5 separate regions of the Homo sapiens genome follow, and regions 2, 3, 4 and 5 are each linked to region 1. Evidence: fine-mapped expression QTL. A gene starts in region 1. Each other region holds a variant in brackets. All regions are shown on one strand. Distances are from middle to middle. Region 1 holds the start of CEBPA (CCAAT enhancer binding protein alpha). Region 2 overlaps CEP89 (centrosomal protein 89). Region 3 has its middle 19 kb from the start of CEBPG. Region 4 has its middle 25 kb from the start of CEBPA. Region 5 has its middle 37 kb from the start of SLC7A10.

What was found. PIP is the estimated chance that this variant, and not a neighbour inherited with it, causes the effect.
Region 2: its variant is the best candidate, but not a certain one, in a credible set for the expression of CEBPA in whole blood (INTERVAL, PIP 0.57).
Region 3: its variant is the best candidate, but not a certain one, in a credible set for the expression of CEBPA in whole blood (TOPMed, PIP 0.68).
Region 4: its variant is the best candidate, but not a certain one, in a credible set for the expression of CEBPA in whole blood (TOPMed, PIP 0.67).
Region 5: its variant is the best candidate, but not a certain one, in a credible set for the expression of CEBPA in whole blood (TOPMed, PIP 0.85).

What each region holds. Positions count from the first base shown.
Region 1 is chr19:33,299,393-33,304,493 of GRCh38, forward strand. It overlaps CEBPA (CCAAT enhancer binding protein alpha), which reads right to left and starts at 3,142. Exons shown (of 1, transcript NM_004364.5): 1 at 542-3,142. The coding sequence starts at 3,022. The coding sequence ends at 1,946. CEBPA-DT (CEBPA divergent transcript) reads left to right here and starts at 3,429. Exons shown (of 1, transcript NR_026887.2): 1 at 3,429-5,101. RefSeq lists silencers at 2,973-3,542, 3,623-3,882.
Region 2 is chr19:32,966,524-32,971,624 of GRCh38, forward strand. All of the region lies in intron 1 of CEP89 (centrosomal protein 89), which reads right to left. Among named protein-coding and RNA genes, the nearest start is that of CEP89, 2.9 kb to the right of the region's middle. The variant C/T (reference allele first, on the strand shown) is at 2,767.
Region 3 is chr19:33,351,711-33,356,811 of GRCh38, forward strand. No RefSeq gene overlaps it. Among named protein-coding and RNA genes, the nearest start is that of CEBPG, 19 kb to the right of the region's middle. The variant C/T (reference allele first, on the strand shown) is at 3,074.
Region 4 is chr19:33,274,602-33,279,702 of GRCh38, forward strand. No RefSeq gene overlaps it. Among named protein-coding and RNA genes, the nearest start is that of CEBPA, 25 kb to the right of the region's middle. RefSeq lists enhancers at 1-209, 1,496-1,640, 3,940-4,497 and a cis regulatory region at 1,562-1,575. The variant G/T (reference allele first, on the strand shown) is at 2,704.
Region 5 is chr19:33,260,023-33,265,123 of GRCh38, forward strand. No RefSeq gene overlaps it. Among named protein-coding and RNA genes, the nearest start is that of SLC7A10, 37 kb to the left of the region's middle. The variant C/T (reference allele first, on the strand shown) is at 1,992.

The DNA.
Region 1 (5,101 bases):
AGGGGTAGGGTGTAGCCACATGGTCTAGGGAAAGAGGAGAGGGTTGGAGGGTCCTACCACTGGAGGCCTCTTCCTGCTGGCCGAGGGTCCTGCTGGAATCTGGAGCTGCGGTGTGTGTGAGTGGCCAGGGCTGCAGCTGTAGGTGATTTGCAAGGAAGTCTGCACAAAGGGCTCCTTGAGCCTAGGGCTGCTTAGCCAGGCCTACCCCTCAGGCAGAGGACTCCCTCTCCTCCTCCCCGGGGCAGATAAGAAGCCTCGCCAAGGCCTCAGCCCAGTAACCCCTTCAGCCCCCTCCCCTGACCCCAAGAGACTGCCTTCAGGCTCTGGACATACTCCATTTGGAGCCTTGTCCTCTGCTATTTATTTGTCTTGCCTGGGGGAAGTAAGTCACCCCCTTAGGGTAAGAGGGGCTCAGGATGGATGGAGAGCTCATGAAAGTCAGGATTGCCGCCAGGGAAAATGCTGTATTATTTACAAATGTGACCTGGCCCACAGACAACCTTGGAAGTAGCTTCTTTCTGGTTTTAAAAAGACACCGACATTGACTTTGATATGTTTATATTATAGATATAATACATAAAACATCTAGAGTGAGACTCTACGTTCTCCCCAAAAGAAGAGAACCAAGCCGTCCTTCCCTGCTCCCAGCCCCAGTGATGCGTTGGCGGGAGGCCACCTCCCTTCCCGACCAGGAGCCAGGGCCTCTGGGGGACAAGCCTTGTGGGCAGCCCAGGCCGGAGGGGCTGGGGAAAGCTGAGGGCAAAGGAGAACCCCCCTCACCTCATTGGTCCCCCAGGATCAAAAGTAATCCCAAAACCAAAAGGAAAGGGAGTCTCAGACCCTTCCCCCAGCTGCCGACGGAGAGTCTCATTTTGGCAAGTATCCGAGCAAAACCAAAACAAAACAAAAACCAAATAAAATGGTGGTTTAGCAGAGACGCGCACATTCACATTGCACAAGGCACTGCTGGGGCACAGAGGCCAGATACAAGTGTTGATATCGGCTGATAAAGCAAAATATTTGGAAAGCTTGTCATAACTCCGGTCCCTCTGGGATGGACTGATCGTGCTTCGTGTTCCTAGGCAATGCTGAAGGCATACAGTACAAACAAGGCTGAGGGTCCCAGTGGCCCTTCACCCCCCATGCCCGCCCCACAGCCAGATCTCTAGGTCTCCCTCTCCCACCAGGGGTATACATCCTCAGAGCTGACCCACGACCTAGCTTTCTGGTGTGACTCGGGGTGGGGGCTCCCACTGGTCACCTGGTGACCCCCATCGCAGTGAGTTCCGCCCCAAGGGGAAGCCCAGCCTATAGCAGGCTGGGGTGGGGTGTGTGCGGAGGGAGGTGGGAGAGGCGTGGAACTAGAGACCCTCCACCTTCATGTAGAACTAGGGGAACAACCTTAGGTTCCAAGCCCCAAGTCCCTATGTTTCCACCCCTTTCTAAGGACAGGCGTGGAGGAGCGGCTGGGGCTGGCGGGCTTGTCGGGATCTCAGCTCCCTGAGCCCTCCTCCTGCCACGGGCCTGCTCCCCTCCTTCTCTCATGGGGGTCTGCTGTAGCCTCGGGAAGGAGGCAGGAAACCTCCAAATAAAATGACAAGGCACGATTTGCTCCCCCTACTCAGTAGGCATTGGAGCGGTGAGTTTGCATTTCCAAGGCACAAGGTTATCCTAAATACTAGAGTTGCCGGGCTCCCAGCTCAGCCCCAAGAATTCTCCCCTCCTCGCAGGGAGAAGCCACCGCCTGGCCCCCTCATCTTAGACGCACCAAGTCCGGCGCAGAGGAAGGGAGGGGACACGCGGAGCAGGCCAGGCTTTCAGGAGGCACCGGAATCTCCTAGTCCTGGCTCGCACGGCTCGGGCAAGCCTCGAGATCCGGCGACCCCAAACCACTCCCTGGGTCCCCGCCGGAGGCTGGCCCAGGGCGGTCCCACAGCCGCGCGCCTCACGCGCAGTTGCCCATGGCCTTGACCAAGGAGCTCTCTGGCAGCTGGCGGAAGATGCCCCGCAGCGTGTCCAGTTCGCGGCTCAGCTGTTCCACCCGCTTGCGCAGGCGGTCATTGTCACTGGTCAGCTCCAGCACCTTCTGCTGCGTCTCCACGTTGCGCTGCTTGGCCTTGTCGCGGCTCTTGCGCACCGCGATGTTGTTGCGCTCGCGCCGCACCCGGTACTCGTTGCTGTTCTTGTCCACCGACTTCTTGGCCTTGCCCGCGCCGCTGCCGCCACTCGCGCGGAGGTCGGGGTGCGCGGCGCCCAGCCCCTTGAGCGCGCTGCCAGGGCCCGGCAGGCCGGCGGCACCGAGCGCGGGCGCGGGGTGCGGGCTGGGCACGGGCGTGGGCGGCGGCGTGGGGTGACCGGGCTGCAGGTGCATGGTGGTCTGGCCGCAGTGCGCGATCTGGAACTGCAGGTGCGGGGCGGCCAGGTGCGCGGGCGGCGGGTGCGGGTGCGGGTGCGAGGGCGGCGGCGGCGGCGGCGGCTGGTAAGGGAAGAGGCCGGCCAGCGCCAGCTGCTTGGCTTCATCCTCCTCGCGGGGCTCCTGCTTGATCACCAGCGGCCGCAGCGCCGGCGCCCCGACGCGCTCGTACAGGGGCTCCAGCCTGCCGTCCAGGTAGCCGGCGGCCGCGCAGCCGTAGCCGGGCGGGGGCCCGTGCGCTCCCCCGGGCATGACGGCGCCGCCGGGGCCCGCGGGCGCGCCCGGGTAGTCAAAGTCGCCGCCGCCGCCGCCGCCCGTGGGGCCCACGGCCGCCTTGGCCTTCTCCTGCTGCCGGCTGTGCTGGAACAGGTCGGCCAGGAACTCGTCGTTGAAGGCGGCCGGGTCGATGTAGGCGCTGATGTCGATGGACGTCTCGTGCTCGCAGATGCCGCCCAGCGGCTCCGGGGCGGCAGGTGGGGCGGGAGGCTGCGCGGGGCCCGCGCCCCGGGGAAAGCCGAAGGCGGCGCTGCTGGGCGCGTGCGGGGGGCTCTGCAGGTGGCTGCTCATCGGGGGCCGCGGCTCCGCCTCGTAGAAGTCGGCCGACTCCATGGGGGAGTTAGAGTTCTCCCGGCATGGCGAGCCTCGGCGGCCTCCAGCCTGCGCGGGGCGTCGCCGCCGCCCACCCGGAGACCCTGCTCGCCCGCGCCCGCGCACCTCCGGGTCGCGAATGGCCCGGCCCGCGCCGGCCCAGCTTTTATACCCGGCAGGCCGCGTCGCCCCCTAGAGTCCGAGGCGGCCTCTGTCCCCGGGCTGCGGCGGCGCGGCGCCTGCTGGGTCCTAGCGCGCGGCCGGCATGGGGCGGCGAACCAGCGCGGCACAGCGCCGCGCTCCCCAGGCAGGCCGCGGCGCAACGCCCACCGCCTCCAGCGCGCCCAGCAGAGCCGCGGCGCTCGCTCCAAGCTCCGCCCCCGGCCCGGCCGTCGCCCCCGCGCCCACGTGGTCGGTAGCGGGGGCCCCCTCCTCCTGCCTGCCCTAGGCGCCCGTATCCAGCCACGGCCGGGAGCCCAGGAGTATCCCGAGGCTGCACGGGGTAGGGGTGGGGGGCGGAGGGCGAGTCTTGGTCTTGAGCTGCTGGGGCGCGGATTCTCTTTCAAAGCCAGAACCAGGCCTGTCCCGGACCCGCGTCCCGGGGAGGCTGCAGCGCAGAGCAGCGGGGCTGGGGCCGGTGGGGGGCCGTTTGGGACGCGCGGAGAGGTCCTGAGCGCGGTGGCTCTGCGTCTCCTAGCTCTGATCTCCAGGCTACCCCTGTGATTCCGCGCAGAGGTACCTCTCGGAGGACGCCGGGGTCCCATGGGCGGCGCCGCGCAGGGCGCTAGGACCCCGCGGGGAGCGGAGGCGGCCTCGGCCCGGGAGCCTGGAGGACCTGGCCGGTCGATCCGCCCGGGCTGGAAAACTTTCTTTATAATTACTTCTCCAGGTCGGAGCGCGCGGCTTGCTAGGCGCGCGGGGCCGGCGCTGTTACCCGGCGTGGAGTCGCCGATTTTTTTTCCTGCGGGACCGCGGGGCCCCCCAGACTAGCGGAGCTGGACGCCGGGGCGAGCACGGGGAGGGGCGCACCGAGGGAGGAGACAAACTTAACTCTGGGGCCGGGATTCCGAGGCGGGGGCCGCAGCCCTCGAGGCCCGAAGCCACCGCTTCCTCCCCCGCCTCCCCATTCAGGTGGGCGCCAACGGCGGGAGCGAGGGTGTCCAGGCCGCCGGGCTGCCAGGTCCGAGCACGCACAGGGAGAACTCTGCCCAGTGGTTCGCCGGGCGCTGTAGTCCCCGGGATCCTAGGGACCGAGGCGGCCAGGCCCTGGGGCCCCTTGAGTGCGGCAGCTAATGCTCTCACCGCGGCGGGGGAAGGAGCTTGCCACCGAGACCCCCAGCCACGTGCGTCCCTCGCATTCTTTACCGGGGCCGGGGTGGCGGCTACGGACCGTCAGCTGGGCCCAGATGGAGTCTTGGGAGCCCTCAAGTGTCTCCTGTCCTTGCCCGCGCCGCCCCTCGCCACTGGCGCTGAGGCCTGACGCCGCCTGCGTCCCGGCTAGAGGCGCGCTTGCCTACAGGTGAGGGAAGACCCCCTTCACCGACAGTGGCCTTAGGCCTGGCAAGGCGCCACGACCCGCCCAGGAGCCCCGGAGGGGGCACAGCTAAAAACACCGCTGGAGAGCCCCGAGCTTCCACGACGATCGCAGTAAAGAAGCAGTTTCATCTGGGCAACGCACACTGCGCTTTAATCAAGTTCCTATTCAACATAGTCCCAGTGATTAATAGCCCAACTGCTTCGTTTTCGGTCCAGAGCTCATAAACAAGATATTTTTAGCTTGACGCTTTTGGACGGGAGGGAGTAAAAACCAGATACGTTAAATAAATATCCCGATGTGAGCCGGAGAGCTGCTTGCTGAGCCAAATGCAGGACCCATTCATATAGCATTCACCTGTGGAGGGAGACCTGGACGGAAATCAAAAAGCACCAAGAGCGATTTGCGTTTTTTTCTGCGGTGCTAAAACTAATGGCTTTTCCTACCTAGGAACAAAGAAACGCCACTGTACATGCACGGTTCCCGGCCTGTGGAGTTGTGGGAGGAAGGCGATGTCTGGCCTTTTTTGCACAGCTGCTGTTGCCTGCCCAGAGATCGGGAACTCT
Region 2 (5,101 bases), 330 kb before region 1:
TTGTCACCACTCTCCCTGGGCCTGCAAGGGGACACCTGCACTGGCCACCCATGGATCCAAACCCATCAGAAGCCCACTCCTCCCCTGCCATCCCCAGTCCCCATCAGGCCAGACAAGTGCACACAGCCAAGGAGCATCATGATAGCTGCTCATTGTGTGGCCCTCTTGTCCTTCCCTCCTCAGAGCTTCCCTGGCTGTCCCCAAGAGTCACCCTCTAGCTCTTCCATGTGTCCCACAGCACTCCCCCCAGTGATGTCTCATGTGGCTCCCCCTGCAGAGCAGGGCGACTTCCTGAGAAGCAAGTGATATCCTTATTGTTTTTCGCTTTGTTTTGTTTTTGAGATGGGGTCTTGCTCTGTTGCCCAGAGTGGAGTGCAGTGGTACGATCATAGCTCACCGCAGCCTCAAACTCCCGCTTCAGCCACACGAGTAGACGGGACTACAGATGTTCACCACCATGCCTAGGTAATTTTTGTATTTTTTTGTAGAGACAGGATCTCACTACATTGCCCAGACTGGTCTCGAACTTCTAGCTTCAAGTGATCCTCCCACCTCAGCTTCCCAAAGTGTTGGGATTATAGGTGCGAGTGCTGCACCTGGCCCACTCTCTTATCTTTATCAATCCTGGAACTCTAGCATTGAGCACATTGCCTCACACCTCATAGGGGCTTAATATAAGCTTTTAGGTGGCTTATCTCCAAGACGAGAGTAATGAAAACTAGCTCCTATACACAATGAAAGTCAGAGAGCTCCGCTTTAGGTAACTGTAACTGGGAGTCTCTGAGACGTTTCTGGGTCTAGTCCAATCATTTTCTTGGCACGAGCCATTCATTCACACCTACTAGAGGCAAAACACCATGACAGCAATGAAGAAACCTTGTCTTCATCCCCAAAGTGGTGAGAAGGGAGGAAAAACACCCAAATAATTATTACAGAACATAGAATTATGGAATGAGCCGGGAGAAAGGCTCTCACTAAAAATGAAAAAAAAAAAAAAGAGCATCAATGAGATGTGGGATAAAAACACTATTGTTTTCTATTTGAAGCCAGTAATTAGCACAAAGTGCTGGGGTGGGCAGGGAGGGAAGATTCCTCCAGGTCTGGGGCCAGCCTGGGAATTTCAAATGCTTTCCTTCGAGAAAATCACACAGGCGTTTAGACTGGGCTTTCAGAGATGCCCACTGGTCCCACATTTGGAAATGTGACGGAACAGCATTCTAGGAAGAGGGAACGGCATGAACAAAGGAATGGAGCAAGACATTGGTTGCAGTGCTCGGAAATCATAAGCACGATTCTCCGTTTTGCTAGACTAGAGGCATCTTCGAGGGTGGGGCTTGGGGGCATGGTGGGGACAATTCCCATGGGAAGGGCTTCCAGAGCAGATGGAGGAAATCCCAAGGCCTAGTGAGGAGCACCCACTGACAGTGGCCCCAGGAATGTTAGGTAGTGGTCAGCACGAGACACAAGGCTGGGAAGGGTGGCACAGAGTGGGGGCATCTTTCAGGAGTGAGGGATGGGCACACCTTCCAGTCATCTCCTACAGCCCCCACCACCGACTTGCACAGCCACCCACAGGAGCAGAAGCTCCAAGCAGTCTCTACCCAATACCCCCACTCTGTTTACCTCTGTGTGGCACCTGCCACCCTGTATTTGTCAAGTGATTCCACAGTTTCCATGTTTCCACCCTGCCCCCCTCCACCACCTGCTACACGACAAGAAATGGTTTTTGTTTGTTTGCTTGTTTTGGAGACAGTCTTGTCTGTCACCCAGGCTGGAGTGCGGTGGCACGATCTTGGCTCACTGCAACCTCCACCTCCTGGGTTCAAGCTATTCTCATGCCTCAGCCTCCCAAGTAGCTAGGACCACAGTCATGTGCCAACATGCCTAGCTAATTTTTGTATTTTGGTAGAGATGGGGTTTTACCATGTTGGCCAGGGTGGTCTCAAACTCCTGACCTCAGGCAATCCGCCTGCCTTGGCCTCCCAAAATACTGGGATTACATGTGTGAACCACTGCACCTGGCCAGAAAAGGTTTTCTTAACCTTTGAATCCCAAGGGCTGGCGTCCAGCAGGTCCTCCAAAAAGGCTGCATAAGATTTTTTTTTTTTAAAGAGTGAATCCCCCCTCATACCATCACAATCATTCCTAACTATGGTCCCCTCATCAATCCTGTCTCTACTGGGCATAAAAACCCTCATGGGCAGCACCACTCTCTCAACGGCAGGCAAATGTCCAGCATGGCTTATCAGGCTGATATAGGTTGGTTCCTACCAAGTGTTATGGGATTTTTGGGGTGTCGATTTTTCTGGCCGGAACCTCTGTGGCCACAGTGCCTTTGCCTGAGTTCTTGTCCTGCATCCAGGAAGAATGAGGTACACAGACAAGTGAAGGGTGAAGAGGAGTTTTATTTAGTGTTAGAAGAGCTCAGAGGAGTGGGTAGCTCCTCTCTGGAGACAGATTGTCCCATGAGCTCAACCATTCAGCTCTCAACAGAGAGGAGGCCCTGGAGAGAGTGGCTCCTCTCCGCAGGCAAGTCATTCCAATGTCTCTGCAGGTCTCTGAAGCTCGCAGCAGAGTGTAGCTCCTCTCTGCTGGCAGGTGGTCTCTGTAGCTTTCAGCGGAGAAGGTACTCCTCTCTGTAGCTGGTCACCCCACCGTCTCCAGCTATCAGCAGAGAGGGTACTGCTCTCTGCAGCTGGTCATCCTGTCCCCTCGTCTCTACCATCTTCATCCTCTGGCTATTCTCTGCGCTGCTCTGGCTGAGCC[C/T]AGGGTTTTTATGGACCTCAGCGGGGAAGAAGTGTGTGCTGATTGGGCCATTGGCAGGCCCAGAAAAGGCTCCACGAGTTTCCACTCTGGTCAGAGGGACTGGCAGCCCAGCCCCCAGAATTCAGGCCCTCCCTGGCCTGAGGGTGGGGCCTTACTGGGGACCCCACCCCCTTCCTCCTGCTGCCATTCATGGCTGCAGGTCTTGGCTCCGACTCCCCTCCAAGATCAGAGCAGTTGCTGGAGTGGAGAGAGGCCAGGCAGTGGAAGCAGACACCCCTGAGCCTGCAGGGATGGAGGGTGAAGGGGGCTGTCCTTCCTGGGATGGCCGATGGTGCAGGCTACAGAGATGCCCTCGTCCTGTGCCTGGGGGGGCAGCCACAGCTGCACCTGGGAGCTCCCACCCCGCCAACTTGGAAGAGGCAGGGCTCCCACTTGTCCCTGGCTCCTGCCTGCGCGGCTGCAGCTGCATCTGGAAGGGCAAATTCTGCCTGTTCCCGGCTCCCCCAGGAGCAGAGAGGCTCGGATCCACAGCTGCAGTTTGGGTGGCTGTAGCCCTGCCCAAGAGGGTGGGGCTCCTGCCTGCTCCATAGAGCAGAAGGCCTGGGTCTGCAGCAGCGGTTTGCGGCTCCAGTCCCAACTCATGAGGGACGGGGCTTCCACCGGCTCCATGAAGTGTGCAGCCCTAGCCACACAGCGTGATGGCAGCAGCCACTGCCATCACAAGGACCCAAATTCATTTCTTGCTTCCCCTCCTCTTCCTGCGCAGAGTCCCTGTGCTTCAGCACTCAGCGTGGGCTTCCATTTCCCAAACAGCAAATAATTCATTCTTTTTTAGGCCTTGGTATTTGCTGTCTTCTGCACCCAGAATTCTTTCCTTACTCCCTGCCAGGCCCAGGCCAACTCTCCAGGCTGACGTCACTGCCCTTCTGGTACACACATCAACAGCAGTTCTTGTTTTACCATTGTGTACAGAATTATTTATGGGCTTGTCTATCCTACAGACCGTGTGGCCATAAGCTGTCAGTTGTGGGTATCAGCACACAGCAGGGACTCATTAATGTTTGGGGCTTTAAATAAAAACTCAAGCCAGATGCAGTGGCTCACACCTGTAATCCCAACACTCTGGAGGCCAAGGTGAGAGGATTGCTTGAGCCAAGGTTTAAGACCAGCCTGGGCAGCATACCCAGACCCCATCTCTACCAAAAAAAAAAAATTATGTTTTTTTGAGGCAGAGTCTAGCTTTGTCGCCCAGGCTGGAGTGCAGTGGCACAATCTTGGCTCACTGCAACCTCTGCCTCTCGGGTTTAAGCGATTATCCCACCTCAACCTCCCGTGTAGCTGGGATTACAGGTGCCCACCACCACGCCCGCTAATTTTTGTATTTTTAGTAGAGATGGGTTTTCACCATGTTGGCCAGGCTAATCTTGAACTCCTGACCTCAAATGATCCGCCTGCCTCAGCCTCCCAAAGTGCTGGATTACAGGTGAGAGCCACCTCACGTGGCCTCTACAAAATAATTTTTAAAATTAGCCAGGCATTGAGACTTGGCAGAGTGTGAGGCAAAAAATAAAATAAATAAAAAATACCTAGGTGTGGTGGTGCACACCTGTAGTCCCAGCTACTCAGGAGCCTGAGGCAGGAGGATCACTTGAACCCAAGAGGTTGAAGCCACAGTGAGCTATGATCATGCCACTGTACTCCAGCCTGGGCATCAGGACAAGACCCTGTCTCTAAAACTAAATTAAATAATAAATAAATATAAGAATCCCCTTGGCTGCTACGTGGAGAATGGACCTAGGGGAAGGGCGAGAGTGGAAGCAGAGAAACCAGTGAGGATCTGCCGCAGCAGTCCAGACAGATGCTGGAGGCCGGGGTGTGGGTGGAGATGGGAACAGCTGGCAGATGTATGTAGTGGGTATATCGGATGGGACTTGCTGATGGGGTGTACATGGTGGGTGGAGGAGGGAAAAATGAAGAATGGCTATATCCAGCAGTGCAGCAGGTGTACGTCGTCCAGGAGTTAACTCCGGGCACGGGGACGAATGCTACAGGGGAGGCAGGGTGCTCCTGTCCAACTGTGGCCGACCCTGGGGCAGAAGATTGTTAACGCCGGGCACAGTGGCTCACGCCTGTGATACCAACACTTTAGGAGGCTAAGGAGCTCAAGACCACCATAGGAACATAGCAAGATCCCTGTTTCCACAAAAATATTGAACAATTAGCCGGGAGTAGTGGCGCGCGCCTGTAGTCTCAGCTCCTCGGGAGGCTGGGGTGGGAAGATCGCTTGAGCCCAGGAGTTCGAGGATGCAGTGAGCTATGATCGCACCACTGCACT
Region 3 (5,101 bases), 52 kb after region 1:
ATGGCGATAACAAAAAAGGAATTGGAGTGAATCCACTTAAAACAGGAACCCATATTGCATATACAGTGAAAGAAGATATGATTGGAGCTTTGCCTTGAGAATTAAACAAGCATTACAAAAAGTCAGTTTTATTTTATATTTCAGAAAACTAGGTTATAGCTGCAATTATGCATTGTTCTTAAAAATCAGTGACGAATGAGTCAAGTGTTGATGGGGGAAAGCTCTGATGAAGGCACGTGATGAAGGCATGTGATGATATTCTATGGATTTCCCGTTGGACTGTCACAGTGTAATCACAAAGACAGCCACTTTATTAATTTTCCGAAGAGCATCCGAATCCTCTGCTATTAAACTCATTCTCTTTCATGTCAGTATCCTGTATCCACCGATTTCTCTTCTACAGTTGTTAACCTGTCTGAATCTTGTCTCATTCACCTGTCAATGGCTTTGCTCCTGATACAAGCAATCAATATGGCTTTCACAGGCTGTGTATAATCTGGCTTCTTCTGCAATTTCACTTATGGTAGACCTATCTTATGTGTCTTGCATCCCACTCCATTGCTAGGAAGAGACTGAGCCCTCAGAATGGTCACATGGTAGGCAAAATGGCTCCCCTATTGGGTCAGGTACAAATAAAGCTTTGACTATAACCTCAAATTGTAATATATACTGTTCACATCACTCTTTTTTTTTTTTTTTTTTGAGACGGAGTCTCGCTCCGTCGCCCAGGCTGGAGTGCAGAGGCGCAGTCTCAGCTCACTGCAAGCTCCGCCTCCCGGGTTCACGCCATTCTCCTGCCTCAGCCTCCCGAGTAGCTGGGACTACAGGTGCCCGCCACCACACCCGGCTAATTTTTTTGTATTTTTAGTATAGACAGGGTTTCACCGTGTTAGCCAGGATGGTCTCAATCTTTTGACCTCGTGATCTGCCTGCCTCGGCCTCCCAAAGTGTTGGGATTACAGGCGTGAGCCACCACACCCGGCCTGTTCACATCATTCTTTTGTCTTTTTTATTTTTTATTTTTTTATAGAGATGGGGTCTTGCTATGTTGCCCAGGCTGATCTTCACCTCCTGGGCTCAAGCCGTCCACTCACCTTGGCCTCCCAAAGTTCTGGGATTATAGGTATGAGCCACTGTGCCCGGCCCTCATCATTCTTTTCTAAACATAATTGAAATTGCCATATTATATCTGAAAGATTTATTATACTCCAAATAATTTTCTTTTTTAGACGGAGTTTTGCTTTTATTGCCCAGGCTGGAGTGCAATGGCATGGTCTCAGCTCACTGCAACCTCTGCCTCCCAGATTATCCTGCCTCAGCCTGCTGAGTAGCTGAGATTACAGGCACATGCCACCACGCTGGGCTAATTTTTGTATTTTTAGTAGAGACGGGGTTTCACCATGTTGGCCAGGCTGGTCTCGAGCTCCTGACCTCAGATGATCCGCCTGCCTCAGCCTCCCAAAGTTCTGGGGTTACAGACGTAAGCCACTGTGTCCGACCTCCAAAAGATTTTTAAAAGATGATTTCTCTTTTGATTGGCAAGTTATTTGATTATTTAAAAGATCCTTTTTATTGCATTTTGGACAATGAAAGTCCTACTTTTTTGGAATATATTAACTTTTCTTTATTGCTTAAGGTAAAATTCTTTTGTGTGTGAATGTTCTATCGATACTTAAAAAGAATGTATATTATTTGACCTATACAGCATTAATGTATTTTCTCTATTAAATCATGTTGTATGTTGTTATTCAGATCTTCCTTGTCTATTTTAAAAAACAGACTTATGAAGATATAATTTATATACAATTCAATGATTTAAGGTATGCAGTTCAATGTTTTTTGGTGCATTCACAGAGTCATGTAGCAATCACTGTATTGTAATTTAGCCTAACTTACCAAAGTCTTTGCAGATTTATAACGACTTAGTTCCAGTGAAATATAGAATCCTGAATAGCTCCATTATACTCCCTTCTAATGCTATTATTATGCATTATAGTATAATAGTATTTATGCATTTTTAATAGCATTCCTGCATTATTATTGTTTATGCTAATATGTTATACATATTATTATACATATTATGTTTCTATATGTTAAAAACCCAACAATTCTTTGGTATCATTAATGCATTAGGTAGTCTGAAGTCTTTTAAAGAAACTGAGAGAAGAAAGGAGAAAAAGTATATCTACACAGTTGGGCACGGTGGCACATGCCTGTAATCCCAGCACTTTGGGAGGCCAAGGAGAGTGGATGGCTTGAGTCCAGGAGTTGGAGATCAGCCTGGGCAACATAGTGAAACCCTGTCTCTACGAAAAATATGAAAATTAGCCAGGTGTGGTGGCACGTACGTCTATAGTCCCAGCTACTTGGGAGACTGAGGTTGGAGGATCGCTTGAGCCCAGGAGGTCAAGGCTGCACTGAGCTGTGATTGTACCACTGCACTCCTGTCTGGTGACAGAGCAAGACCCTGTCTCAAAAGTATATCTATAGAGTTTTAAAATTTTATTTATTTATTTATTTATTTATTTATTTATTTATTTATTGAGATGGAGTTTTGCTCTTGACGCCCAGGCTGCAGTGCAGTGGTGGGATCTCGGCTCACTGCAACCTCTGCCTCCTGGATTCAAGAGATTCTCATGCCTCAGCCTCCCAAGTAGCTGGGATTACAGGCACCCACCATCTCGCCTGGCTAATTTTTGTGTTTTTAGTAAAGGTGGGGTTTCACCTTGTTGGCCAGGCTGATCTCGAACACCTGACCTCAGGTGATCCACCCGCCTCGGCCTCCCAAAGTAATGGGATTACAGTGTGAGCCACCATGCCCGGCCACTACCTTTTAATTTACCCATTCCGGTTGTCTTTGTTTATTGCTATAGTTTCAGCTACCATCTCATGTCCTTTCCTTTTCCCAGTATAGCTTTGCTCTCACCTTCCATGTAGCATCAGTGTCAAGTACACTGTATTTCAGTAGATTATAGCCCCAACAACACAATTATATACACATTGTTCTATGAAATTACTTTATAAATCAGTTAAAATAAGAAAGGAGAAGAAGGTCAGACATGGTGGCTCAAAC[C/T]GGTAATCCCTGCACTTTGGGAGGCTAAGGCAAGAGGTTCACTTGAGGTCAAGAATTCGAGACCAGCCTGGGCAACATGGTGAGACCCCATCTCTACAAATTTTTTTTTTTTTGAGATGGAGTCTCGCTCTGTCACCCAGGCTGGAGTGCAGTGGCGTGATCTTGGCTCACTGCAAGCTCCGCCTCTCAGGTTCATGCCATTCTCCTGCCTCAGCCTCCCAAGTAGCTGGGACTATAGGCGCCTGCCACCACGCCTGGCTCATTTTTTGTATTTTTAGAAGAGACTGGTTTCACCGTATTAACCAGGATGGTCTGGATCTCTTGATCCACCCACCTCGGCCTCCCAGAGTGCTGGGATTACAGGTGTGAGCCACCACACCCGGCCTCTACAAAATTTTTTTAAAAAATTAGCCAGGTGTGGTGGTGCGCATCTGTGGTCCCAGCTATTTGGAAGGGTGAGGTGGGAGGATTGCTTGAGCCCAGGAGGTTGAGACTGCAGTGAGCCGTGTTTGCACCACCACACTTCTGCTTAGGTGACAGGGTTAGACCCTGTCTCAAAAAAAAGAGAGAAGAAATATACAATTATATACTGTCTTTTGTAATTTCTACATAATTTCCTTTACCAATGTTCTTTGTATGTGTGTATTGTGTGTTTGTGTATGTTGTGTGTGTGTGCATGTTCACATTACTGTCTGGAGTCACTTGCTTTCTGCCTGAACACTTCTTGTCAAGCAGGTGTGCTATCAACAAATTCAGGTTTTGTTTATCTGGGAATATCTTTATCTTGCCTTCGTTTTTAAGAGAGAATTTTGCTGGATATAAGATGCTTGCTAGATGAAATTTTATTTTCAGCACTTTGACTGTATCAACCCACTGCCTCTGGCTTCCATTGTTTCTGATGAAAAGACTGCTGTTAATCTTACTGGGAACTCTTTACATGTGACATGTTGTTTGCTCCTGTTGCTTCTAAGATTTTTCTTTGTCTTGCAGCATCTTTACCGTAATATATCTGGATGTGGATCTCTTTGTTTGGCATACTTGGAATTTGTTGAGCTTCTTGGCTGTGTAGATTAATGTTTTTCATCAAATATGAGAAGTTTCAACCTTTGTTTCTTTGAGTACATTGATGCTTCTGCCTTTCCTCTTTACCTGCTAATTCTTCTGTGTGTATTTTGGTGCATATAATGGCATCTCACATCTTCCTGAGGCTTTGATAATTTTTCTTTCTGCTCTTCATTTTTTTAATTCCCTGTACTTATGATTGGATAATCTATATTGATCTAGCCTCAATTTCACTGATTTGCTCCGGCCAGCTCAAACCTGCTGTTGAATCTCTCTAGTGAAGTTTTAATTTTTTTAAATTTTGCTTTTCAATTCTAGAATTTCTATGGGTTTCTGTTTAAATAATTTTGTCTTTTTCTTGATGTTCTCTGTTTGATGATATGTTGTTATCATCCTTTCTTTTAGTTCTTTAAGCATGGTTTCCTTTAGTTCTTTAAGGATGTTTATAGTAGCTGCTTTGAAGGTTTTTATGCTATTTCACCATCTGGGCTCCCTCAATTTCATGTATTTTTAAGTATTTTTCTCCCTGGCCTGTCAAAGAATGAGAGGTATATTAAGGTATCCCACTAAAAATGTGTTTTGTACATTTTTTTCTTCAGGTTCCTAACTTGCATTTAAAAAATTTTGTTGATGTTAGTAGGTGTATAGTTTTCTATTATGGTATTATTAAATATTGAGCAGGTATAAATTAACATTCATAAAATAGGAGTTAAATATTAATGGCATAACAAATATCTGAGTTTCTACCCATTGCATTTGAGAAAACACATTATCACAAATTTTTTCCCTTTTTATTTTGAAAAATGAATTTGGAGGATTTATACTACCAGATGTCAAACCTTATTATTATGTTTACCATAGCATATTATTATGCTATCATAAAAGACTGTGATATTAGCACTAGTGTAGACAGACCATTGTAACAAAACAGAGAGTCTAGAAATAAATCCACACATATATGGCCAC
Region 4 (5,101 bases), 25 kb before region 1:
GGGATAGGCAGCCTTGGTTCAGGATTTCCTGGTCAGGCAGAAGTGGTGCCTTGAAAAGGGAACAATCTCGTGCTAAAGTGGACGCTGAGGGTCCACACAGTGCAGTGCTCTAGGGTGCCCAAGGCCGAGAGACCTTGTGCCTTCCTTGCCTGGGTTTACAGTGGGGGTCCCAGAAAGCTTTGCCCCTAGGGTGGCCCATAGGATGTGCCCTCAGGCTTTTTCTAAATGCTTCCTGATCTGGGCTGCCCGGGGTGGGGGCTCTGGAGCTGGACACTCCTCTGACTGCTGTGGAGGCAGGGACAGCACCCCCACAAGAGGTACCCCAAGAGAAATGGGGGCCCCCAATGTCCCCAGGCACTAGCTGTCCCAGGTTCCCTTCCACAGTGGGCAGCTTTACCCCTGCACCGCCCCATCCCCCAAAGCCTTAACAAATAAAAATGAAGCTCTTTGAGGCTAAGAGTCTATTCAAGCTCCAAGAGCTCTCTGCCATGTTGGGAGGAGCCTTCTAGAAGCGCTGCTTCTCTCAGGGGCTGGGAGGGCTGGCCTCACTGGGTACGCCTGAGAGATGCAGCATCTTAGTCGGCACCCATCTGCCGCGTCCACATCTGGGCTGTACCAAGGTCCCCCAGAGGCGCCACTGTCCCTGAGAGACGCTGAGTGAGCCCAGGGCCCAAGGACAGCAGCCACTTACTGTGCAAATGCCGGACCTTCCCTGTCCCCACCACCTGGATTCCTCCCGGGGTGGCCCTGGGTCTTGGGTCAGGCAGGGAGGCTGAGTGGGGTGGGCAGCCAGCACAGCCACCATGTCCTTGTCCCCCTGCCCCACAGGGGCTGCCTTCTCCAGCTGGAGGTTCAGGCCTAATCCCCAGGACAAAACAGGGATTTGCATCCTAAAAGCTGCTAATGCGGGTGCTGCTCCTCTGTCAGTGCCCGCTTATCGTAGAGGAAAGACACTGTCCCTGGGGCGTTGGGAGCCGCTGGTCTCAGCTGGTTCTAGGGATGATGGAGACACAGCTGGGTGGCATGGAGCTCAGCTATCCTTGAGCTGGGTCAGCCCAAGCAGGAACCCCAAGGGGGCCCCCGAGAACCTCTAGCCCAGACCCCTGGACTCAGGCCTAGGTGCCTGTCCCACTGTAGACACCACCCCAGCCCTGCGTGCTGCCACCAAACCTGTCCCCTGCCAGTGATGTGGGCACCCCTGACCCCTTGCACCCACTGGGACTCTTCTCCTGCACAAGGTCCCTGTCCCCACTGCTGCTTCTGCCCTGTCCCCTCCCTGCTGGGTGTGACACCCAGAAACCGGGCTGTGGGAGGCAAACATGGAGCTGGCTTGGAGAGCTTTAGACCCCCTTTCTTGCCTTGGGGACCCCGGGATCCTGGCATAGGCCTGCCCTGAGTGGGGAAAGACGATGTCAGAGTCCCTGGGACTGCAGAGAACGCGGTGTCCTCCGAAGCATGCCTGGGTCCCCCTGATCAGGGTGGCAGCAGGGGGCAGTGCCTGGGCTTTGGGTGCTGGCCCCCACCACGCTGAGCGGCCACGAGCAGGGCTGGCCGGGCCGCCATTAATGATTAACTTGGGGCCTGGGCCTTGACCTCGTGGGCCTCTGAGTAAACAGGCCTGCTGGAGCCTGCCGGGCCCCTCATGGCCTCTCCACCCCCTGACCTCTCCTGCCCTCCTGGTCCTGGCCTCCCTCACCCACCTTTGCTGCTGAGGTGGAGCAGTGGCAGGCGGTCTAGAGGCGCTGGCCTTTCTCACCCCCACCCTGGATCAGCCTACCGCTGATTCCTGCCCCTGGCCCCAGCCCATTCTCTTTGGAGCCTTTGAGGTGGGCTTTTCTTCTTGGACTGGGGCTTGCCCACTGGGGTGTCTCAAGCCCTGACCTCAGCCCCTTGCGTCCACACTGCTGGGGCTTGTTGAGACTGGCCGCGTGGAGCATGCTGTGTAGACAGTCAGGACCGGCTGTCAGAAGACCTGTGTTCTAGCTCCAGCTCTGGTCTCACTGGCTGTGTGACCCCTAGACCATGCCCTGTCTCTCTGGGCCTCAGTTTCCCCATCTGCACAATAAAAAATAGAGCAGGAATCCCAGGGCTTTCTAATCCCAGAATTCTAGATGCCAGTCTGGTTTGGAGTGAGACTGAGGATAGGAAAAACATATGTCCCCACCCCGCCCCAGAGGACCCCTTCCCGAAGAGTCACTGGGGTGGACCTCCAAGTTCCTGGCTGCCCACACTCACTTCCTTCTTCTGGGGCAGCCCCTTGTGTTCCCTTGGAGGACCAGCCCTCAAGCTCTCAGACCAGGGGCTTCAGGCAGGGCAGCCCCTGCCTGGGGCTCTGGAAGTGGGTCATATGACCTGGGCCTGGCCAATGGGTGTCTGCCCTGAGACTTTTGCTGGAAATACTGAGAAAAAAAAATCATTTTTTCTTCCCTAGCAAAGCAGGAGAATGTGAGCCCCATGGTTATCTTGCTGGGCACAAAGGAAAGGAGAGCTGAGGACCCGACACGGGTTTTGACGACGGAGCCCCAGCTGTGCCCGAACCGGCACCTTGTGGACTTTTCCATGGCAAGAACCAGTGGATTCCTTTTCTGCTCAAACCAGTGAGAGTTGGGTCTCTTCCCTGATTCACACATTCACACACTGGACTCACACCATGCAGGCACAGAGGCTACAAATGCACAGTTGTCACCGTTACACACGCACCGC[G/T]AAACATCTGTGGAGAAAATGTGCGTGACAAACAGGGCTGGGGAGGGAACCCGGCTGGCCGCAGTGAGCAAGGGTGGCAGGGGGTGGGAGAATGTGGGCCCAGGGTGCCGACCCAAGCTCTCTCCCTGTCACTTCACCCGCCATTTGCCCATCATCCCCACGTCCAGAACCCTCAGCCGGCCATTGTGGATGATGGGCGAATGGCGGCTGAGGTGGGCAGGCTGAAGCTGATTGGCCAGGGACAGAGGTGAATGCTCCTGTTTGCACGTGTGCGTGTGTTCACATGCACGCTGAGCTTTGCATGCAAGAAACATGCTGTGGCCCACTCGGGGAGCACTTTCAGTCCCTCCCCACTGCAGAGGCCTGAAGCTCAGTGAGTCGGGGAGGGGTCTCTGGTCAGTCGGGCCCTCCTCCACCCTGGGACTGTGTGGTTCCTGGGAGCTCAAGGGCCACCTGGGTGGGGGCAACCCGAGGAGAAGGGACTGCCTCTTCTGCTCCACTGTGGGATAGAAGGATCACCAGGGCCTTCTGCAGGAGCAGAGAATCCGCCTCATTTGGGCCTCCCCAGTTCTCCAAGGAGTGCTGGCCTCATGGGGCTATACTGGGGGAGAGGCTTTGTTCTGGAGCCCAGGCTGCCTTTATGACACTGGGTAGTCCAGGGTCCTAGATGCAGATGGCTTCAGGCATATTGCACATACCACATGCACACGCAGACACGCACACAGATGCATATGGGCACACGCAGGCACAGCTATCTTGTGTGAGCTCTGCGGATGGAAAAGGAGAAGCTTTCTGTGGACAGGGAACAATGGCGACAGAGGAACCCCTTGGCCCTCCTGGGAAGGCCCCACCCCACAGCTTGGCTCTTGCCAGGCCCCTTGGGCTCTAGCCTGGGGAAGGGCTCTCAGCCAGCAGCAGGAATAGCTGGATCAGGTGTCTGGAGATAACCCTGGCTCCCTGCTGCTGGCTAAAAGCCCTTCCCCCAAAGCTCTGTCTTCCCCTCCTGCTCCTCTTCCTCTCCGTGCCTTGCTTTTGGACTTTCAGGCCACATCACATTCCTTTTTCTTTTCTTTTCTTTTTTTCTTTCTTTTTTTCTTTTTTTTGTAGAGATGGGGTCTTGCTATGTTGCCCAGGCTGACCTCCAACCCCTGGCCTCAAGGGATCCTCCTGCCTCAGCCTTCTAAAGTGCTGGGATGACTCTGACTCTTTCTCTGCTTCCTCCTGTCTCTGTTGGTCCCAGTTTCTGTCTCTCTAGGGGGGCATCCCAGGAGAGGGGCAAGGTTCAGGCCTCAGGGCTTAAGCCCCTTGGCTGCTGGGCCAGGCCTTCCTCTTTCTGCTGTCTGTCCCCTGCCCTGCTTCCTTACTCTGGCCAGAGCCGACTTGCCCTTTGCCCTGGAGCTGCGGCACCTCGGGGTTGGGGGAACTGATGGCCTCACCTCCCCCACCCCCTGCAGCCCCTGCTCCTCCCCACAGGAGTCTGGCCAGAGAGTTGGGCCCTGGGGAGGCCACACAGCCAGGACACATGTCCTGGCCCCAGGCAGAACCCTTGCCCTGGCCACAGAGCCACACCAGCCAGGTCAACTCTGTCCTCTGAAATCCCTGGAGACCAGGGCAAGCCCCCCCCACCCACTCCCTGGGGCAGCTTCGGACTCCCACTCACCTCCAGGTTGGGAAAACTGACCCCCAGCCCAGGGCAGGAGGCAGGATGTGGAAGGGCCTCTAGCAGAGCTGAGGTCCAGCCGGCCATGTCGGGGGAAGGACGACCCTGTACCCTGTCATTCCCCTCACAGTGTGAGGCCCCAGGGAATAACCTGCCCTGGCAGGGGACTGAGAAGCAGGAGCAGTTTCCCAGCTCTGGAGCATGCTGGGTGGGAGCAGGCACGGGGCGTCTCTGGGGGTGGGGAGCAGCCCCTCCTTGCCTAGGCAGTCACTTTCTGGGGGCCAGCACTTCCCACACTCTCTTTTTTTTTTTTGAGACAGAGTCTCACTTTGTCACCCAGGCTGGAGTGCAGTGGCACGACCTCGGCTCGCTGCAACTTCCACCTCCTGGGTTCAAGCAATTCTCCAGCCTCAGCCTCCCAAGTAGCTAGGATTACAGGCGTGTGCCACCACACCCAGCTAATTTTTTGTATTTTTAGTAGAGATGGGGGTTCCCCATGTTGGCCAGGCTGGTCTCGAATTCCTGTTGATTCTCGAATTCCTGGTGATCCACCTGCCTTGACCTCCCAAAGTGCTGGGATTACAGGTGTGGGGCATCACGTCCGGCACTTCCCATGCTCTCAGAGCATTCACTGCTGCTGTCCAGGTCAGAGTCTGCCAGTGCCCTCCTCCAGGAAGCCCACCTGGGCTGGACCAGAAGAGGCAGGAGCCTGAAGCAGCCGGCCTTCCTCCCCACCAC
Region 5 (5,101 bases), 39 kb before region 1:
TGGAGTGCAGTGGTATGATCCTAGCTCACTGCAGCCTGAACCTCCTGGGCTTAAGCGATCCTCCTGCCTCAGCCTCTTGAGTAGCTGGAACTCCAGGTGTGCCCCGCCATACCTGGCTAATACTTATATTTTTTGAAGAGAGAGGGGTCTTGCTATGTTGCCCAGGCTGGTCTCGAACTCCTGGGCTCAAGAGATCCTCCCGTCTCTGCCTCCCAAAGTGCTAAGATTACAAGCATGAACCACCGTGCCCTGGAGACATTTTTGATCATTGCAATTGGTGGTGGTGATGGGAAAATTGTTCCTGGTGTCTAGTGGATATAGGCCAGAGATGCAGCTAAATATCTTATAATGCACGGAATGGCCCTAACAACACAGAAGTATCCAACCCCAAACACCCACAGTGAGTCCTGAATCCCGAGGGGGTGAGCCCTCTGTCCGCTCTGGGTAGAGGGATAGAGAAGCTGGCTAAGGCCCTATCCCAGGGTATTCCCTGTGGGGAAGCTTGGAGCTGAGGCTGGGACTGGAGGAAGGATGTCTTTCATCAGATCTGGAGGACGCCAGATATCCTGACTGCTCCCGGCTGGCACAGGGAGCCTCATCTGAGCCCACGAGCCAGGGTGCATCCCACATCCCACCCGATCTGCCCACGAGGCCTCCCACCCGGCCCCTCCCTGGTGCAGCCCTGCACACACGCGCCAGCCACACGCACGCCTGTGTGATGTGGTGAGCAGGCCCCGTATGATGTGGGGAACGGGCGTGTGGTCGTTGGAGCAGGCCAGGCCCTCCTGGGGGCGGTGAGGACATATCTCTGGTGCCATCTTTCCTGTTCTGATAAATAACTGATCTGTGGTTGAGGCAAGAAGGTCACCTCTGCCCAGGGAAGCTCAGGAACAAACCACTTGTGACCGGTGGGAAGAGCCCGGGGGGGCAGCGGGAAGTCTGTCTTCCCTGGCCACCGGGCTGCTGGGGGCAGATTTCAGAAAAGGGAAGTGCTGAGCTGGGGCAGTGCTTCCTGTGGTCGCGGCAGGCAGGGCATCAGGGCGGGCACGGCAAATCAGAGGGGTGACTGCCCTAGCTTGGAGGGGCAAGGAGCTGGGGTCCCTGGCTGGGCCCCATGTGCTGCCAGCCTTCATGCATTGGGCTGAAGGCCTGGGGGGGATGGAGGAACATACTAGAACACCAACAGCACTGAAGCTCCCCTGCTTGGGAGTGCCCCTGGGCTCCTCTCTGCACTCAGAGTGAAGTCCCCCTGGGCTTCGTGATTTGCTCCTCAGCCTCTGCTTCTCTGGCACCTGCTCGTCAAGTTCCCTCTGCATAGGGCCCCCTTCTCCCACCAGCTCTGAGCACTGGGGTCGGTGGAGGGGGCACCCCCTGCCCCTTCCCCTCTGCTAAGCCCGGAGCCCCTGGCTTGGCTGCTCTGGGAACCCTCTTCATCCCCAAAGGAAGGCCTGAGCCCAGGAGCCTGTGAGATCCTTCCCAGGCCCTGGCGCCCCTCTGGTGGGCAGCTGTCTGTACCCCTCTTCTATACTTAGGGGGGATCTGGTGCAGGGGCTTAGGAGCAAGGGAGGTGGCCGGGCCTCTGTAGTTCCTGGAGCTCCCATTTCCTCTTCCACTAAACTCTCAGCATCACCACATGACCCAGACTGTGAACCCAGGGGAGTGCTCGGTTGGGGAGGGGAGTGGAGGGAAACCGGCTCCCTCCTGTCCCAGCCCTGAGCACCAGCACTGCGGTTCCAGCTCCCTGCAGGCACTTCCTGCCTGCTCTGGGAAAGCACAGATGGCTGCCACGCCATCACAGCCCTGGGGTTGAGCCCAGACCCCCGAACCTTGACTGTCCAGCCCTGCCAGACCCCGTCAGGATCCACATAGACCCGATGGGTTGCTCTGTCTCCTTGGCTCTGGCCGAGTCCATGGACAAGGAGCATGGCTCCATCCGCCCCGCTCAGCTCTGTGCAGCCCACAGCCCTGCCTGCCCCACCTGAGGGTTGGGG[C/T]TCTCTGGACTGGTCAGGGGTGTGTGCTGTCCCTGCCACCCTGCCCCAGCTGAGGCCTGTACCTGGCAGGGGTCGAGCCAGTAAAATCATTGTCCTGCCCTAACCCATGGTGTCTAGGCAGTATGGGCAGGGCCAGGGAGGGCCCATCCAGCCTCGCACCCCACCACTCACCGTCTTGCTCTCTCCTTTTCACTCCCTCTGTCTCCTGACCTTGGGTCACCTCTTCCCTTTCTTGCTCTCACTCAGTCCCTTCTCTCTGTTTTTCTGTTTCTTATTTTGAGACAAAATCTCACTCTGTTGCCCAGGCTGGAGTGCAGTGGCACGATCTTGGCTCACTGCAACCTCCACCTCTTGGGCTCAAGCGATTCTCCTGCCTCAGCCTCCCGAGTAGCTGGGATTACAGGTGTGCGCCACCACGCCTGGCTAATTTTGTATTTTTAGTAGAGATGGGGTTTTGCCATGTTGACCAGGCTGGTCTTGAACTCCTGACCTCAAGTAATCTGCCTGCCTCAGCCTCCCAAAGTGCTGGGATTACAGGCATGAGCCACTGTGCCTGGCCTGTTTTTCTGTTTCTCTATCACTTTAGTAAGTCCTTCTAGCCCCCAGGACCCCCCAGCCCCTCTCTGTATCTGCACACATTTGTCAGTCTGTCCCTCCACCACTGTCCTTGTTTCCTCTCTCTTCCTCGTCACCCTGCCCTGACCTGGGGGGTTTGTGTCTCTCTGTCTCTCTCCGCCTGTCTCCATCTCCCCCTTATCCTCACTCTCTCTCTGTCTGTCTCTCATTTTCATTCTCTTTCCTTTCCTCTTTCTTTTTATTTTATTTGTATGGGTCCATAGCAGGTGCATATATCTACGGGGTACATGACATACTTTAATACAGGCATGCAATGTGTCATGATCCATCAGGGTTAATGGGGTCTCCGTCCCTCAAGCATTTATCTTTTCTCTGTGTTACAAACATTCTCATCATGCTCTTTTAATTATTTTTAAATGTACAGTAAATTCTTGGTGACTGTCATCACCCTGTTGTGCTATTAAATACTGAATCTTTTTTTTAAAAAAATTATTTTAAGTTCTGGGATACATGTGCAGGACGTGCAGATTTGTTACATAGGTCAACGCGTGCCATGGTGGTTTGCTGCACAGATCAACCCATCACCTGGGTATTAAGGCCTGCATGCATCAATCCTGGATCTTAGTCATTCTACCTAACCATATTTTTGCACCCGTCGACCATTCCCGCTGCCCTCCCCTCCCTCTCTTTCTCCCCCTCTCTCATTCTCTCCCCATTTTCATTTTCTCTCTCTCTTCTCATTCTCTTTCTTCCTCTCTCTGTCTCTGCCTCTGCAATCACCCCTGGTCTTCGCCCTCCCTGTCTCTGCTCCCCGGAGTCCCTGCACGTGGCTTGACAGTGGCCTTGGTAGGACCCACTGGGGTGTTTCTTCGTCGCCCATGGGCCCTCATGCTGTTATCAGTTGGAAATGAATCAGAGATTAGGAAGCGGGGGGAGTGGTGGGGGTGTTATCGCCCAGTGCACACGGGGCTCTCAGCTAATCTCTGGCGGCCCTGGGTTCGAGAGGAAATGCAGTTGCAACACTGAGTCCTTCTTACCGTCACTGTCATGTCCGCGGCGAGGCTGTGGGGGACACGGGCAAGAGATTGGAGAGGGGAGAGGGAGAGGAGAGAGGGCCTGGCCTGAGCTCCTGGCAGGCGTTTGTACAGGCTCACGTGCACACGTGTGCACACACAGCATGTACACCTCCTGGCCCTTGACACCTGAGCCGTCGCCAGGCCTTGCCTGTCACCCTTCCATTGCCTCTGCATGCCCGCACCTGTCCACGTCTTCCCCTGCCGCCCCACGTCCCCAGCCACCATCTCTCTTCATGGGATGGCAGCTCTGGCCTCATCCAGGCTCTTAGCCAACAGAGTGGCCATATTATTATTATTATTTTATTTTATTTTATTTTTTTGAGATGGAGTCTTGCTCTGTCGCCCAGGCTGGAGTGCAGTGGTGCAGTGTCAGCTCACTGCAAGCTCCGCCTCCCAGGTTCACGCCATTCTCCTGCCTCAGCCTCCCGAGTAGCTGGGACTACAGGTGCCCGCCACCACCCCCGGCTAATTTTTTGTATTTTTAGTGGAGATGGGGTTTCACTGTGTTAGCCGGGATGGTCTCGATCTCCTGACCTCGTGATCTGCCCGCCTTGGCCTCCCAAAGTGCTGGGATTACAGGCGTGAGCCACCGTGCCCGGCCCAGAATGGTCGTATTATTAAATGACCACATGATCGGGCTGCTTTCCGAACTTCACCTTCCCACGGTTCTAGGAAGCAGCCACCATTATCATGGTGGCCTCCAGGCTTGCGTGTCTAGCTCCTGTCCTTCCTGCCCTCACCTCCCACACCCCTTGGCTTCCTAGCACCTGCAGTTCTGCCTCGACCCCTCCTCAGTGCCCCGGCTTTTGCAAATGCTCTCCCCTCTGCCTGGAAAACTCTCCTCCCCATGACAACTCCCATGCCTCCTATGGCACTCGGCTTTCCTGTCCTTCATGAAAGCATCCAGGGTCCCCGAGTGCCAAGCTGCAGCAGGTCCCTTGTCTCGGGGCTTCCACCCTCGAGGCGTGAGCTCCCCCTGTCACCATCCTGCCTAGGGATTATGGGTGTAATTCCTACTTCCTGCTCACCTCCTGCCAGACTGTGGGCCTGATGGGGCAGGGACCGAGCCCTCCAGTCTGTCTAGGGCCTGGCCGCACCAGGCAGTGATTGAATGAACAGATCCATAAACACACCGAGAGACACGGATGTACCCAGGCCCATGCACAGACACACAAATGCAGTCACCAGCCATGCACGGAAACTCACATTGACAGACGCTCAACCTCACAAACGTGCAAACCAAAGTTACCTAGAGACGCACGCAGTGACCAAGACACACACACGCCCACTGTCTTCTGTCTATGCTCTGGGCTCACTGCCTCTCATCCAGCCCTGCCCCTCGGGCAGGATCCCCTGCGGGTGTGGGCCTCCTGCACTGCAGCCCTGGCCTTAGCTCCAGGGGGCCAATCCCATGTTATGGGCCCCCAGCAGGATTCTCTGGGCCCCAGCCGTGGTCTT